Homo sapiens: one gene and its partners. The protein of the gene in region 2 purifies or fractionates together with the protein of the main gene of each other region. This does not show direct contact. Each region holds a gene or a part of one and is shown on either strand. Other genes may lie near its edges.

What was found.
Region 1: the proteins of ELAVL3 (region 2) and MOV10 purify together in Homo sapiens (affinity purification with mass spectrometry, with the first as the bait; one large-scale study listed by BioGRID). This does not show direct contact.
Region 3: the proteins of ELAVL3 (region 2) and SART3 purify together in Homo sapiens (affinity purification with mass spectrometry, with the first as the bait; one large-scale study listed by BioGRID). This does not show direct contact.
Region 4: the proteins of ELAVL3 (region 2) and RIMS1 purify together in Homo sapiens (co-immunoprecipitation; one large-scale study listed by IntAct). This does not show direct contact.

The regions. Positions count from the first base shown.
Region 1 is NC_000001.11:112,684,659-112,688,158, reverse strand, and holds part of MOV10 (helicase MOV-10), read right to left. Parts: intron 1,194-3,500; exon of another isoform or gene 1,053-1,193; intron 1-1,052.
Region 2 is NC_000019.10:11,460,547-11,464,046, forward strand, and holds part of ELAVL3 (ELAV-like protein 3), read right to left. Parts: intron 1-3,500. UniProt on the Homo sapiens protein: RNA-binding protein that binds to AU-rich element (ARE) sequences of target mRNAs, including VEGF mRNA. May also bind poly-A tracts via RRM 3. May be involved in neuronal differentiation and maintenance.
Region 3 is NC_000012.12:108,540,674-108,544,173, forward strand, and holds part of SART3 (spliceosome associated factor 3, U4/U6 recycling protein), read right to left. Parts: intron 2,480-3,500; coding exon 2,355-2,479; intron 2,172-2,354; exon of another isoform or gene 2,139-2,171; coding exon of another isoform or gene 2,097-2,138; intron 1-2,096. UniProt on the Homo sapiens protein: U6 snRNP-binding protein that functions as a recycling factor of the splicing machinery. Promotes the initial reassembly of U4 and U6 snRNPs following their ejection from the spliceosome during its maturation.
Region 4 is NC_000006.12:72,250,050-72,253,549, reverse strand, and holds part of RIMS1 (regulating synaptic membrane exocytosis protein 1), read right to left. Parts: intron 3,221-3,500; coding exon 3,090-3,220; intron 2,630-3,089; coding exon 2,458-2,629; intron 2,336-2,457; coding exon 2,182-2,335; intron 790-2,181; coding exon 718-789; intron 1-717. UniProt on the Homo sapiens protein: Rab effector involved in exocytosis. May act as scaffold protein that regulates neurotransmitter release at the active zone.

The DNA of each region.
Region 1 (3,500 bases), on a different chromosome or scaffold from region 2:
CGAGGAGCACACAGACTGAACATATACATTCCAGCGTGGTGCTTGGAGGGCAGCTCATCGGCCACAGAGGGGCTCAGTGCCACAGAGGGACACTGAGCCCAGTCTGGGGGCAGAGGAGGTGTCCATGAAGGCCTTCCCAGGAGGCAGCATAAGAACTGAGTCCTGAGGATGAGTGGGCATTACCTGGGCACAAGAGGGAGCGCGAAGTGTAAGCAGATGTGAGAGGTACGCAAGAACATGTGCAGGGAGGGGCAGAGGGGGGCGGCCCACTTGACAACTCTAGCCAGGTCAGCTCAGTTGACCTCACCTCTCAGAGCCTCGCTTTCCTCCTCTATAAAATTGGAGGAAAGCGAGACTTACCTCGTAGGGTTGCTGTGAGGTTTACATGAGATTTTGACACGGCAGAGAACCACTTAGCACAGTGCTTGGCACATAGGAGACCTCAGTAAGGGTGAGCCATGATTAGTATCACATACAGTTTCATTGTGCTAGAGTGAAATGCACAAGGAAGGGAGTGGCAGGAGGAGCAGAGGTGGGCAGGGACCAGATCATGGACAGTTTTGCACAACAGGCCAAGCCTGGACTTGACTCTGCATGTCTGCAGTCGTTTTCCCCGCTCTACTGATACCCAGGAGCCTGAGGACATTCCCACGTGCCACATACTTCAGGGACATATTCAAGATCTAGATGACTGACACCCTCCCTTAAAAGCAAATCTTTGTTTATGAGGACTATGGTAATTCCTATTTAACTCTTCAGGCTAAATCATCATGGTCACTCACTAGGGTATGTGATAAGATCATTTATGGTTATGAGTATTTTTCAGGTGCCTGCTGCCTGTAACTCTGCCCCTCTCCTTCACCCCAAGCAAATGAGACTGGTACAATTTGGAAAACATTGAATTGGCTATGATTTGTTTTAAAAAGGTAATAAATCATTCAAAAGCATAATAGAAAATGCTCAGTAAATGTTAGCTACTATTGTTAGTATTTATATTAGTAGAAATAGTAGTACTAATAGTAGCAGTAGTAGTAGGAGTAGTAACAACTTACTTTCAGCCCACGTCAGAGGCTACACTGTGGTTACAGAACCACTGCGGTTGGTGGGTTTTAAGCAGGGGAGTGGCAAGATCATATTTGCATTTCAGATCACTCTGGCATCAGGATTGGAGGATGGATTTGCTGGAGGCAAGACTGTAGGCAGGGAGACCAGTTAGAAGAAGGCCCTTGCAATTGTCCAGTTAAAAGATAACAAAGGCCTGAGCAAGGCAGTGGGTAGAGATACAGAAGAAGAGCGGCAAGATTCGCTAATACTTAGAATGTAAAATTAGCAGAAATTTGGTGACTGACAGAAGGGGGAATGAAGGCTGGGAAGAGGGATGAGTCTAGGATCCCCAAATCAATGGCCTGGCTTCTAGGACTATCTCTGAGATAGGATGTAAGACAAGAGGAGGAGGGGTTGGAGGGACTGACCATGACATTTGGATTTGGATATGATGCGTTTGAGATTCCTGTGGTCCAGAGGCAACCAGCTCCACGAGTCAGAAGCTGAGAACTCAGGCCAAAGTCAAGGTTACAGCCTAGTATTAGGGAGTCCCCAGGTAGTGGTTATAATCAAGGAAGTGTAGGAATCTCCCCAGGGAGTGTGAGTAGTTGAGAGCAGCTACTAGCACAACCCGGGGAGGAAGGGAAAACAAGAAACCCTCAAGAGAGAAAGGAGAATCAGCAAAGTCTCAAAATCAGGTATCAGGATCAAAAGCTGCTGAGGGGTCCAGTAATACAGGGACTGAAATCAGGAGATCATCAGTAACTTTCACAAGGGCTTCTTAGAGTCCATCAAAGTCCCATGGATCGAGGCACAAGCTAATGCCTACAGCAGCTATGCTTCACAGGTATCTTGATCCTTGCAGCCCTTTCAGACACCTGTTCAGTCCATTTTTGAGAGTCACTAGTGTAAGAATACTGCATGCATATCCCTCACAACGCTAAGAAAACAAAGTGCAACCTCCAAGAAAAGTGGCTCCAGGCTCCCAGATCAATGCTGGGCAGAAAGAGGGCTTTGTGGGGACTGAACAAACTGGGAAGTGCATGCCCTGTCTGAAGCAGGTAACTGCTTATCTTCGAACGGGGCCAGTAGGGAATGCAGGCCCCGGATGGCCAGATCTGACTTTCAAGAAAAGACAAAATCAAAATTTTAACATGAAACCTCCTATTTTTGAAAACCTGCATGGCACAAGGGCAGACAGAACTCATCTCTGTAAAATTTCCAAATTCTACTGCAGATGCTATCCCTAAATATTTCTCAAATTATTCTCTATGTCTCTCATCACTACCCAAATTCACCTAACATTGGTCTAGGTAACAGTCATACAAAAATTATTTTTAAAAAATCACAAACTTATTATATTCTTGTCGGAAAAAAGCCCCAATCCTTGTATTATACATGTAATCCTCTATATTTATTTTATTTTATATTTTATTTTATTTTATTTTATTTTATTTTATTGAGACGGAATCTTGCTCTATCACCAGGCTGGAGGGCAGTGGCACGATCTTGGCTCACTGCAACCTCTGCCTCCCGGGTTCAAGTGAGTCTCCTGCCTCAGCCTCCTAAGTAGCTGGGACTACAGGTGCACGCCACCACACCCAGCTAATTTTTCTATTTTTAGTAGAGACAGAATTTCACCATGTTAGCCAGGATGGTCTCAATCTCTTGACCTCCTGATCTGCCCGCCTCGGCCTCCCAAAGTGCTGGGATTACAGGTGTGAGCCACCGTGCCCGGCCGTAATCCCCTATATTTCTAAGAAAAACTTTCTAACCAAGACTGGAAACCAGCAGCTATAAAATAAAACTAGGTCAAGTGTGGTGGCTCATGCCTGTAATCCCAACACTTTGGGAAGCTGAGGTGGTAGGACTGCTTGAGCCCAGGAGTTTGAGACCAGCCTGGGCAATAGTGAAAAAAAAAAAAAAAAAAAGCCAGGCATGGTGGTGCACACCTGTAGTCCCAGCTACTCAGGAGGCTGAGGCAGAAGGATCACTTGAGCCCAGGAGGTCAAGGCTGCAGTGAGCTGTGATTACGCCACTGCACTCCAGCTTGGTTAACAGAGCTTGGGTAACCCTGTCTCTAAAAAAGAAAACAAACATTTCTGACTACTAAAAAATATTTTCTCTAGCAAAAGGTAATATAAACACATTCAACAGATAAATACCAGATAAATACTCATAATGCAGATGACAGGCAAAGGGCTAATTTTTATAATATATAAATTTTCTTACAAATTGACAAGATGAACAATTCAACAGAAAAATCGAATATTCAATTAAAAGAACAGATCCAGATGGCCAAAAGAGTATGAAAAACTGCTCCAAATGTAGAGAAATGCAAATTAAAGTATAAATGAGATATTATTTTATTCCCATTAGACTGACAAAAATGAACATAGTTCTAGCATATATTACTATAATGGGTATGTGGAAAAGTGAACTCATAAATTGCTGGT
Region 2 (3,500 bases):
CCAATTACTGTGTTCCAGCAACTTGAACTTCCCCCATTTTTCCCAAACACACCAGGCATGTCTCAGCCTCAGGGCCCTGGCATTGCCTGTTCTCTCTGCCTGGAATGCTCTTCCTCCTCTTCTTTCTTTGGGTCTCAGTTGAAACATCCTCCCTGTCCTCTCTCATCTAAATTTGTCCTCCCCCCACCACCCCTATTACTCTTTCTCAAAGCACTTCTCCTAACTAGGAATTAGACACATTTTAGCACTGTTATCTGAATCACATTATTAATTATAGTCCAACCCAACAACGAAACTCTCTGCAGGTGTTTAAAAAAATGGTGGGTCAGGTGCAGTGGCTCATGGCTGTAATCCCAGTGCTCTGGAAGTTCAAGGCAGGAGGATCAAGGGAGCCCAGGAGTTTGAGACCAGCCTGGACAATACAGCAAGACTCACCCCCGTCCTCCACCGCCACAACCTCTACAAAAAAAAAAAAAAAAAAAATTAGCTGGGTGTGGTGGTGCACACCTGTGGTCCCAGCTACTCGGGAGACTGAGGCTGGAGGATCACTTGAACCCAGGAGTTAAAGGCTGCAGTGAGCTATGATCACACCACTGCACTCCAGCCTGGGCTACAGAGCAAGACCCTGTCTCTAAAAAAAAAAAGAGAAAAAGATGGACATATATATTTATTTCCCAGAAACGGTGGTGACTGGTGAGTATTGTAAAATGGGGGACAGAAAAGTCTATTTACAAAGCAGGGAATATTGTGTGACCTTGTTTCATTGTGTGTTTATCAATGTCCTGGAAGCATGGTAGGGAAGTCCACCTCTCAAATGCTCAGTGGGTGACCTGTCACCAGGGACTGGGGAAGAGGCTGGGGCGTGGTCATCAGCAATTCTCCCCCTTATGTCTGCTGTATCTATTTTTCCTCCCTCCCTCCCTCCCTCCCTCCCTTCCTTCCTTCCTTCATTCCTTCCTTCTTTCCTTCCACTCTCCCTCCCTCCCTCTTTCCTCCCTCCCTCCTTCCCTTCCTTCCTTTCCTCTTTCTTTTTCTTGTTAAGTGAGGTTTTTGTTTGTGGGTTTGTTTTGAGATGGGGTCTTGCTGTGTTGCCCAGGCTGGAGTACAGTGATGCAATCATGGTTCACCACAGCCTTGACCCCCCCGGGCTCCAGCAATCCTCCCACCCTCGGCCTCCCAAAGTGCTGGGACTACAGGTGTGAGCCTTTGTGCCCAGCCTCTATTTTCTGTTTCTTCTAATTAACCTCTTGATAGATAGGGGTCATTGTCTTCTGGCTTTTGTTTGGGACAGTGAGTTGAGACAGTGAGTTGTGAGAGTGTATGCCTCCATTAGAAATAACTAATTAAAGCTGGGCGCGGTGGCGCACGCCTGTAATCCCAGCATTTTGCGAGGCTGAGGCAGGCGGATCACAAGGTCAGGAGATCAAGACCATCCTAGCTAACATGGTGAAACCCCATCTCTACTAAAAATACAAAAAATTAGCCAGGCGTGGTGGCGGGTGCCTGTAATCCCAGCTACTCGGGAGGCTGAGGCAGGAGAATGGCGTAAACCCAGGAGGCGGAGCTTGCAGTGAGCCGAGATCGCGCCACTGCACTCCAGCCTGGGCAACAGAGCGAGACTCCGTCTCAAAAAAAAAAAAAAAAAAGAAATAACTAGTTTAAAAATGAACAAAATAGATAAAGCAGTTTGAGAGTGAATGGGGGGCAGGGTCTGATTAATATAATTTTGTGCACCTGGGGTTCTCCAGAAAAAAAAATCACATCAGCCATTGTCATGTCCATAATAATGATTTTTAAAATCACAGCCAGGCCAGGCACGGTGGCTCACGCCTGTAATCCCAGCACTTTGGGAGGCCGAGGTGGGCAGATCACTTGAGGTCAGGAGTAGGAGACCACCCTGGCCAACATGGTGAAACCCCGTCTCTACTAAAAATGCAAAAATTAGCCGGGCGTGGTGGCGGGCGCCTGTAATCCCAGCTACTCAGGAGGCTGAGGCAGGAGAATCACTTGAACCTGAGAGGCGGAATTGCAGTGAGCCGAGAGCGCACCACTGTAATCCGGCCTGGGTAACAGAGCAAGATTCCATCTCAGAAAAATAAATAAATTAATTAAGAAATAAATCATGTCCATGCTGGGCACGGTGGCTCACGCCTGTAATCCCAGCACTTTGGGAGGCTTGAGGGGGGTGGATGATCTGAGGTTGGGAGTTCGAGACCAGCCTGACCAACATGCTGAAACCCCGTCTCTACTAAAAAAAATACAAAGATTAGCCGTGCATGGTGGCTGGCGCCTGTAGTCCCAGCTACACGGGAGGCTGAGGCAGGAGAATTGCTTGAACCTGGGAGGCAGAGGTTGCAGTGAGCCGAGATCGCGCTACTGCATTCCAGCCTGGGTGACAGAGTGAGACTCCGTCTCAAAAAAAAAAAAAAAAAAGAAAGAAAGAAATCATGTCAATGTATTTGACAGTTTTCTCTTCTTTTTTTCTCTCCCATGGGGCTAGGAGCTGTGAGGGTACTTGCTGATGAATCAGATTTGGGTTGAGGGATTAGATTTGGGGGTAAGATCCTGGGTGGATATTGGAGGTCCAACACCGTCTGAGACACAGAGGAGGTTTTCACAGGCCTTTTCCATCCCTCCATGACATGGGTTTCCCAAGGGCAAGGATGGACCAAACTCCACCCACACCCCACCCTGGGATGGGGCCTGGCCCGCGGCAGGCAGCTGGAGATATTTTGGGCAGCTGCCATAGCGCCCAGTCCTGACTGACCGCGCAACACCGTCACACAGGCAAAAACACCCAGGGACAGACAGAAGGCCATGCAGTGCCGCCCCGCTGCACAGCCTCAGAGATGAAACCAGCCAGAGGGTGACACAGGCCACTGTCACATTCTCAGCAACGTTCAGGAGGGAGTCTCAGAGAATTACAGTGAAGGTCGTAGAACCACATACCCATCACAGCGCAGCACAAACACACGATATCACACTCAATCCCTCAGAGCAGGGCACAGGTAGACACACCCACACAACATCGCGGTGACACACAAACATCCTGCCAGAGCCAGACGCATCCCTGAGGCCCCATCAGGTCACAGCCGGAGTCACAGTGTCACATGCACCTGTCAAATAATAAGCACGTCATCCTGGGCCGGGTGCGGTGGCTCACACTTGTAATCCCAGCACTTTGGGAGGCTGAGGTGGGTGGATCACGAGGTCAGGAGTTCAAGACCATCCTGACCAACATGGAGAAACCCTGTCTTTACTAAAAATACAAAATTAGCCAGGTGTGGTGGCGGGTGCCTGTAATCCCAGCTACTCGGGAGGCTGAGGCAGGAGAATCGCTTGAGCCTGGGAGGCGGAGGTTGCAGTGGGCCGAGATCGCGCCATTGCAATCCAGCCTGGGCAAGAGAGGGAGACTCTGTCTCAAAAAAAACCCCAAAAAATCAAAAAACCAAAAAAAAAAAACCTTATCCTACAGACACATAGGGATATACCCGAAGTCT
Region 3 (3,500 bases), on a different chromosome or scaffold from region 2:
GAGGAAAAAGGTGGATGGGACTCACCCTATCCAAGAGCAAAACATTATAACTCTCATCATTACAACAGTGTAACATAAACCAGTGGGACAGAACAGAAAATCCAGAAGAAAGACCCACACATAAATGGACAGCTAATCTATGACAGATGTGGCACTGCACATCAGTGAGGGGAAGAAGGAATGATCAAACTCAGTACTAGAACAACTGGTTCTCCATATGGAAAAATGAAACCAGACGCAGTCTCATACCACTCAAAAATCAATCCCAGGTGGATGAGGGCCTAAATATGAAACAGAAAACTATAAAACTTTTAGAAGAAATTAGAGCTAAGTAGGGAATATTTTTTAAATAAGCACAACAAAAGCACAACCAAAAGGGAAAGAATTTTAATCTAATTGATCACTAAGAACTGTTCATCAAAAGACACTGTTAAAAAATAAAAAAGTGAAAAGGCAGTTGCAGTGACTCACGCCTGTAATCCCAGCCCTTTGGGAGGCTGAGGCAGGTGAATCACCTGAGGTCAGGAGTATGAGACCAGCCTGGCCAACATGGCGAAACCCCGTCTCTACTAAAAATACAAAAATTAGCGGGGCTTGGTGACAAGGGCCTATAATCCCAGCTAATTGGGAGGCTGAGGCAGGAGAATCGCTTGAACCTGGCGGGGCGGAAGTTGCAGTGAGCCGAGATCACGCCACTTCACTCCAGCCTGGGTGAAAGCGAAACTCCAGTCTCAAAAAAAAAGAAGTGAAAAGACAAACAACTGGGGAGAAAATCTGCAACACATACAGCCTAAAATAAGACTTAAGACAAAGCACTCCCACAAATCAATTAGAAAAAAGATACATCAAAAGGGAAATGGGTCAAAGACTTTTTTTTTTGAGACGGAGTCTCACACTGTTGCCCAGGCTGGATGGAGTGCAGTGGTGCGATCTCGGCTCACAGCAACCTCCACCTCCCGGCTTCAAGCGATTCCCCTGCCTCAGCCTCCCAAACAGCTGGGATTACAGGCGCCCGCCACCATGCCCAGCTAATTTTTTGTATTTTTAGTAGAGACGGGGTTTCACTATGTTGGCCAGGCTGGTCTCAAACTCCTGACCTCATGATTCACCTGCCTTGGGCTCCGAAAGTGCTGGGATTACAGGCATGAGCCACCCCGCCCGGCCCAGACTTTTTTTTAAGAAATAGGGTTTTGCTTTGTCACTTAGGTGACAATGCAGTGGCATGATTACAGCTCACTGCAGCCTTGACCTCCTGGGCTCAAACAATCCTCCTACCTTCGCCTCTGGAGAAGCTGGGACTACAGACACATGCCACCAAGCCCGGCTTTTTTTTTTTTTTTTTTTTTTTTTTTTTGGTAGAGACAGGGTTGTGCTACGCTGCCAGGCTGATCTCAAACTCCTGGGCTCCAGCAATCCTCCCGCCTTGGCCTCCCAAAGTGCTGGGATTATAGGCATAAGCCACTGTGCCCAGCCTGAACACTTTAACACGCACAAAAATTTGAATGGCCAATCCACGTGAAAAGATGCTCAACTTCATTAGTAACCAAGAAAATACAAATTAAAACTACAATTTCAAATTCATCAAATTAAGTAAAATTTAAGTATGACCAATATCCAAGATTGGCACAAGCAACGAGAACTCTCAGATACTGCTCACAGCAGTGCAAACTGATAACCTGGAAAACACTTTAACATCACCCTATGATCCAGCAAAGTCATTCCTAAGTACGTATTCTAGAGAAACTCTTTTTCATGTGTACAAGGAGATACACACAAGAATGTTCAGAGTGGCGCTGCTCCTTCTCCTAGCAAAAACCTGGAAATGACCCAACTATCCAGCAACATGGATAAATACATCGCAGTACACAGACAACTTTACAGCAGTGAAAACAAATGCACCGGAGTTATACTTAGCAACATGAGTAAAACCCAAAAGCATGTTCAATGAAAATAAAATATACAGCATGATTCCAATATATAAAAGTTCAAAAGCAAGCAAAATTAAACAATATATTAATTAAGGATACTTTCATAGCTTGTAAAACTATAAAGAAAAGCAAGGGAATTATCATCACAAAAGTCAGGAAAGTGATTACCTCTCGGGAGAGGGAGGAGGAGGCAATCGGAGAGGGGCACATAGGAGACTTCTAAGGTACTGGCAATGTTCTATTTCTTAACCTGGGTGGTAGGTACATGGATGTTCACTTTATTATTAGTATGTAAACTGTACGTATACATTTATACACTCTATATATTTCAGAATAAAACATTTTAAAGATACTGTTTAACTCGCAACTATCCATCAGGGAAAGGTTTGTAGAGAGACGTTTACTATAAAAGAAGCCAACACTTACCAGTGCTTCTTCATAGGGTTTATATTTCTCCAGCTGCTGTAGTGCTTTGTTATAGTTCTGAATTACTGACTCTGGTATTGGGTCTTCTGACCATTCTTCATACTCTGCAAATGTGGCCTCCATATCTATTGAAAGATGGATTCAGCCCCGTGGGTCTTGCCATTGGGCTTTATCAACCCAAACACAGATTAAGCCATGAGACTCAGGTGCCACTAGCCCCTCCCACATCTGTGGCATGGCAGCTCTTACTGATCAAATTCTGATTTCTGCTGAGCCCAAACCTGTCTGTAGAATCTGTCTTAAAACAATGTCCCAGGCAACCCTCCCAGCTAATTAATCAGTCAATGACACTAGTGGCAACGATTTAACAACACTTACCCAGTGTTACCTATGTTCTACCACTTCACATCCACTAACTCATTCAGTCATCCCACTCTACAAGGTAGTCTATTGTGATCCTCATTTTGCAGTTGAGGAAACTGAAGCAGAGGGTTCAGTTGCTCGTCTACAGTTAATGGTAGAGCAAGGCTGTGAACCCAAGCAGTCTGGCTCAAGTTCGCACTCTAATCATTATGCTAGGTTGTTTCACGCTGGTAGGTGAAATCTGCAAGCCGGCTCAGCTCTAGTGTTTTCTGCATGATACCCAACCATTTGATTAGACGACTACTTTATAACTTGTTAAATCCAATAAACCATGAAGAGAAATAACATGTGGGCTCCAGTAAAGTTGCCCAGAGGTTCTGAGTATGTACAACACATGCCCGTGTCTAGGGAACAAACACAACAGCCATGACAAACTCTTCCCATACTCAGAAAAATCCTCCCAGCACGCACACACTCATAGCTCCAAAGACTCAAAGGCTTAGATTGCCAAAATGTATTTACCAAATAAGGAAACTCTTTACCAAACCCCAAGAAACTCACTTATGAGTACTTCCAATCAACTGCACTTCTGAACCAAATCCCTCCCATAGAGGAATGATCTAAACTCATGTAAAATTCCTGCTGTTATGGAAGAGGTTACTTGTGAAGAGAAAATGATTATAATGGAACTCTTGTTCAATGAAGTTTCCCCAAAAAATACAGGTGTCATTCACTATTCCTTTCAGAGACCCTATCTCTGCCCTTCCAACTAGGTCTCAAAGG
Region 4 (3,500 bases), on a different chromosome or scaffold from region 2:
CTCTCATTAGTAAATTTTTAAAAAGTATAGAATTAGTGCCAAGAAAGTAAGTCTTTACCACTTGATTTTACACTTTTCTGACAGAAGTCAGATGAGAAACATTTAAACCCTACAACATCACAAAAGTTTTACTAACTTACACAATGACAAAGAGATGTTCACTTCAAATTAATACTTAATCTTTCTTAAACATATTATTGTATTAAAACATATACACACATTCTAGGTATAATCAGTGGGAACACATCACAAAAGCTTTAAAAGTTACAGCCATGCCACATGCAATTTTAAACCCCGCCATGCACCTTTCTCAGTATATTCCATGGAGGGCTACATTATTTTCAGAAATGGTGGAAGGAAAATCATAGAAATGCAAATATAAAACACAGAAAAATGGAATTTTTATTTAATAACCCCATCTTTTCAAAATAAAATTCGTATTTTCACTTACGCTCAGAGCATTGTGAAATAATGATTTGTTTCACTAGTTAGACATGTTTCTACGGAAGAACCTCACTATGGGAATGCTAATTAGTAGAGACTAGTCCATTTAAAACTTTCTTAATAATTTGAAATGTAAGTCACCATGGAATAATATAATACTGATTTCTCTGTGCTATAAATCTTCAGTTTAGTATCCTAAAGAGGTCCGGAAGCTGACAGAGAAAACAAGCAAAGCAGCACAGTGAAGCAGGGTCATGCTCCTCACCCACGCACCTGGAGGAACTACGCCAATACCATCATCAACCTCATAATCTGAGATGTCACTATCACTGATTCGCTGAGATCCTGCACAACAGTAAGGCAAAGAGATACTTCTGTGTCTGGTTGGTTTATGAAACGTAAAGAGCACTGTCAAACTTTTTTTAAAAAGTGAATTGCATTATTACTGAAAACTTATGAAGACTAATACAGTAAACACTGAGCTAATTTTAAAAGAAATGTTTGTTCTCTAAGGATAACATTTTATCAGTATTTTTTTCCTCATTACACCAAAGACATATAGAAACAAGGGGACTTCACAGAATAAGATTTTCAGATTAATTCTTTAATTAAAATATTATACTAAAAGCCTTCAGCACAGTATATACAGTACATTGTTTTCTACACAATTAAGTGCTTTCCTCTGCAGTTCAGAGAGAATAGGGCTGAGTGGAAAGGTTCAGAGACATTTCTTGGCTGGAGCTCTATTCAGCCTATATTAATGAAAAAACATCAGGGCCCTTTATAAAATATTTATGTTTAGCTCCCCAAATTAGTCATTATACTTCATTAAACATTAACTTTGAGGAAATTACTGATCAGGGAAGCATCAACATGAAATATTTAATTATGTGAGAAAAATAATTTAGTTCCAGATTACCAAAATGAGGCTTCTTTCAGCTGTTAACTTAGAAATGTAGTTATGACACAAAAATTACTCAATAAGTACAGAAAAAAATAGCTTTTCCCAATCACTAGATGAATAGCAATAAACATACCTTCTAATATTTTAAACAACATTTCTTATGAATAACTATTAAAATATCTATGAACTGGCTGGGCATGGTGGCTCACACCTGTAATCCCAGCACTTTGGGAGGCCGAGCCGGATGGATCACAAGGTCAGGAGTTCAAGATCAGGCTGGCCAAAATGGTGAAACCCCATCTCTACTAAATATACAAAAATAAATTAGCCAGGCATGGTGGCGCACTTCTGTAATCCTAGCTACTCCAGTGGCTGAGGCAGGAGAATTGCTTAAACCCGGGAGGTGCAGGTTGCAGTGAGCCGAGATCACGCCAATGCACTCCAGCCTGGGCAACAGAGTGAGACTCTCTCTCGGTGGGGGGAGAAAAAATCTTTGAACTATAAAGTTATTAAGACTTCACAGGTGGCAACTCACCAGTGATGACAGAAATTATTCCATCAGTCAATAACCAACAGCTCAATTGGCCCTGTGCAAGAATTTTAATTCAGAGGTTTTTGGCTTGCAGCTCTGCAATTACTCTGCTATGCTATCTACATTATTTTCATTGTGAAAATGTAGAAACAGTTTTGCCAAGTTGCTTCATAAAGATGAACAATTTTCCAGTATTTTGATCTCTAATAAAACATTTAAAAAAAACATCTTGAATTATTAATCACTAATTAGATCATTACAGCATAATTACTTTGTGGCAACTAAAAGGACCTTAACCTACTTTGTAGCTTTTTGCTAGAGCTTTCTCCATGAATATGTCGCCTTGGCATGAAAGGTGATGGCTGAGGCAGAGGTAGTGAAGACTCATCATGTGTCTGAAGTTTATACCAATGCGGTTCATCATCTAAAAGCGCTGTCTCCAATTCTATGAGGATCTGAGAGGGTAATTCTCAAATTAAATCAAGTACCTTTATCAAAACATAATGTAATAGTAATCATAATAAATATCACAAAACTTTATTAACTATTTGACTTGAGTTTTTAAAATATACATCACCTCTCCAAGAAATTCACTTTCTTCTTCTTGCACTCTTGGTTGGTCCCACACAGTTATTTCTAACATTCGTTCTCTAAAATCTCTACGATGTACATGTGAATAGACAAAAGTTTGATTCCATTTTGGTTCTAGTATTTTCTTTACTGTTTTGGTCCTCCTTTTACTTTTATCACTGAAAAATAAGTATGTTTTGTAAATGAAAAAGCAAGTACATGCTGCCATCTACTGTAGTTACATGTAAAACTGCCATTGATATTTATATTATTTTAACTAATAACTCATGGAAAGTCTATAAAAAGATAATAGAGTTTAATAATATTCTAACTTCAGTTACAATATAAGCAGTATTGTAATTATAGGGACACATACAAAGGTACATTCTAAATGATGTGTCGCTATCAAAGACTAATATACCTATAAACAAGGTAATAGATTTTTTTAATTGACAGATTATTTTCAAATATTTCCAACACAATTTCCAACACTTGAGGGACTTCTTTTTTCAGAGATAATGTACTTTTATCTCCTCAGAATTATCTATTATATTTTTTAAAAACATCCCAAAAGAGAAAATTCTACCTTTTCTATTAGTACAGATTTTAAGATTTTTTTTTTCTAAAATTATTCACTACCTTCTATCTGGAAGAAAATACATTTTTACATAGGGATTTCGAGGACGTCCATCTACTCTAGCAGGTAGATCTGTTGCTTGCAGAACATTTACAATCAGCTGGTGTCCCACTTTATCATACCACAACTTCACCTAGGAGCAATGAGGAAAGGAATTATTTGTAAAAATCATGAGGCATTACAATTTTACATAAAACAAAATTCAAGTTATATTTAAATGAGGAAATTTTGAATTACAATATAATGCAATTACAGATATTTCTAAAAACACACCAATTTGAAAGCATAAACACACAGAACTTTACTTTTCTCTTTGAGTACTTTAAACATAACCTACAACTGGCAGGCCTTCAGTGTTACTGTATATTCTCACATATCATTTTATAAAATAAAACTAATAATAATTTTTCCAA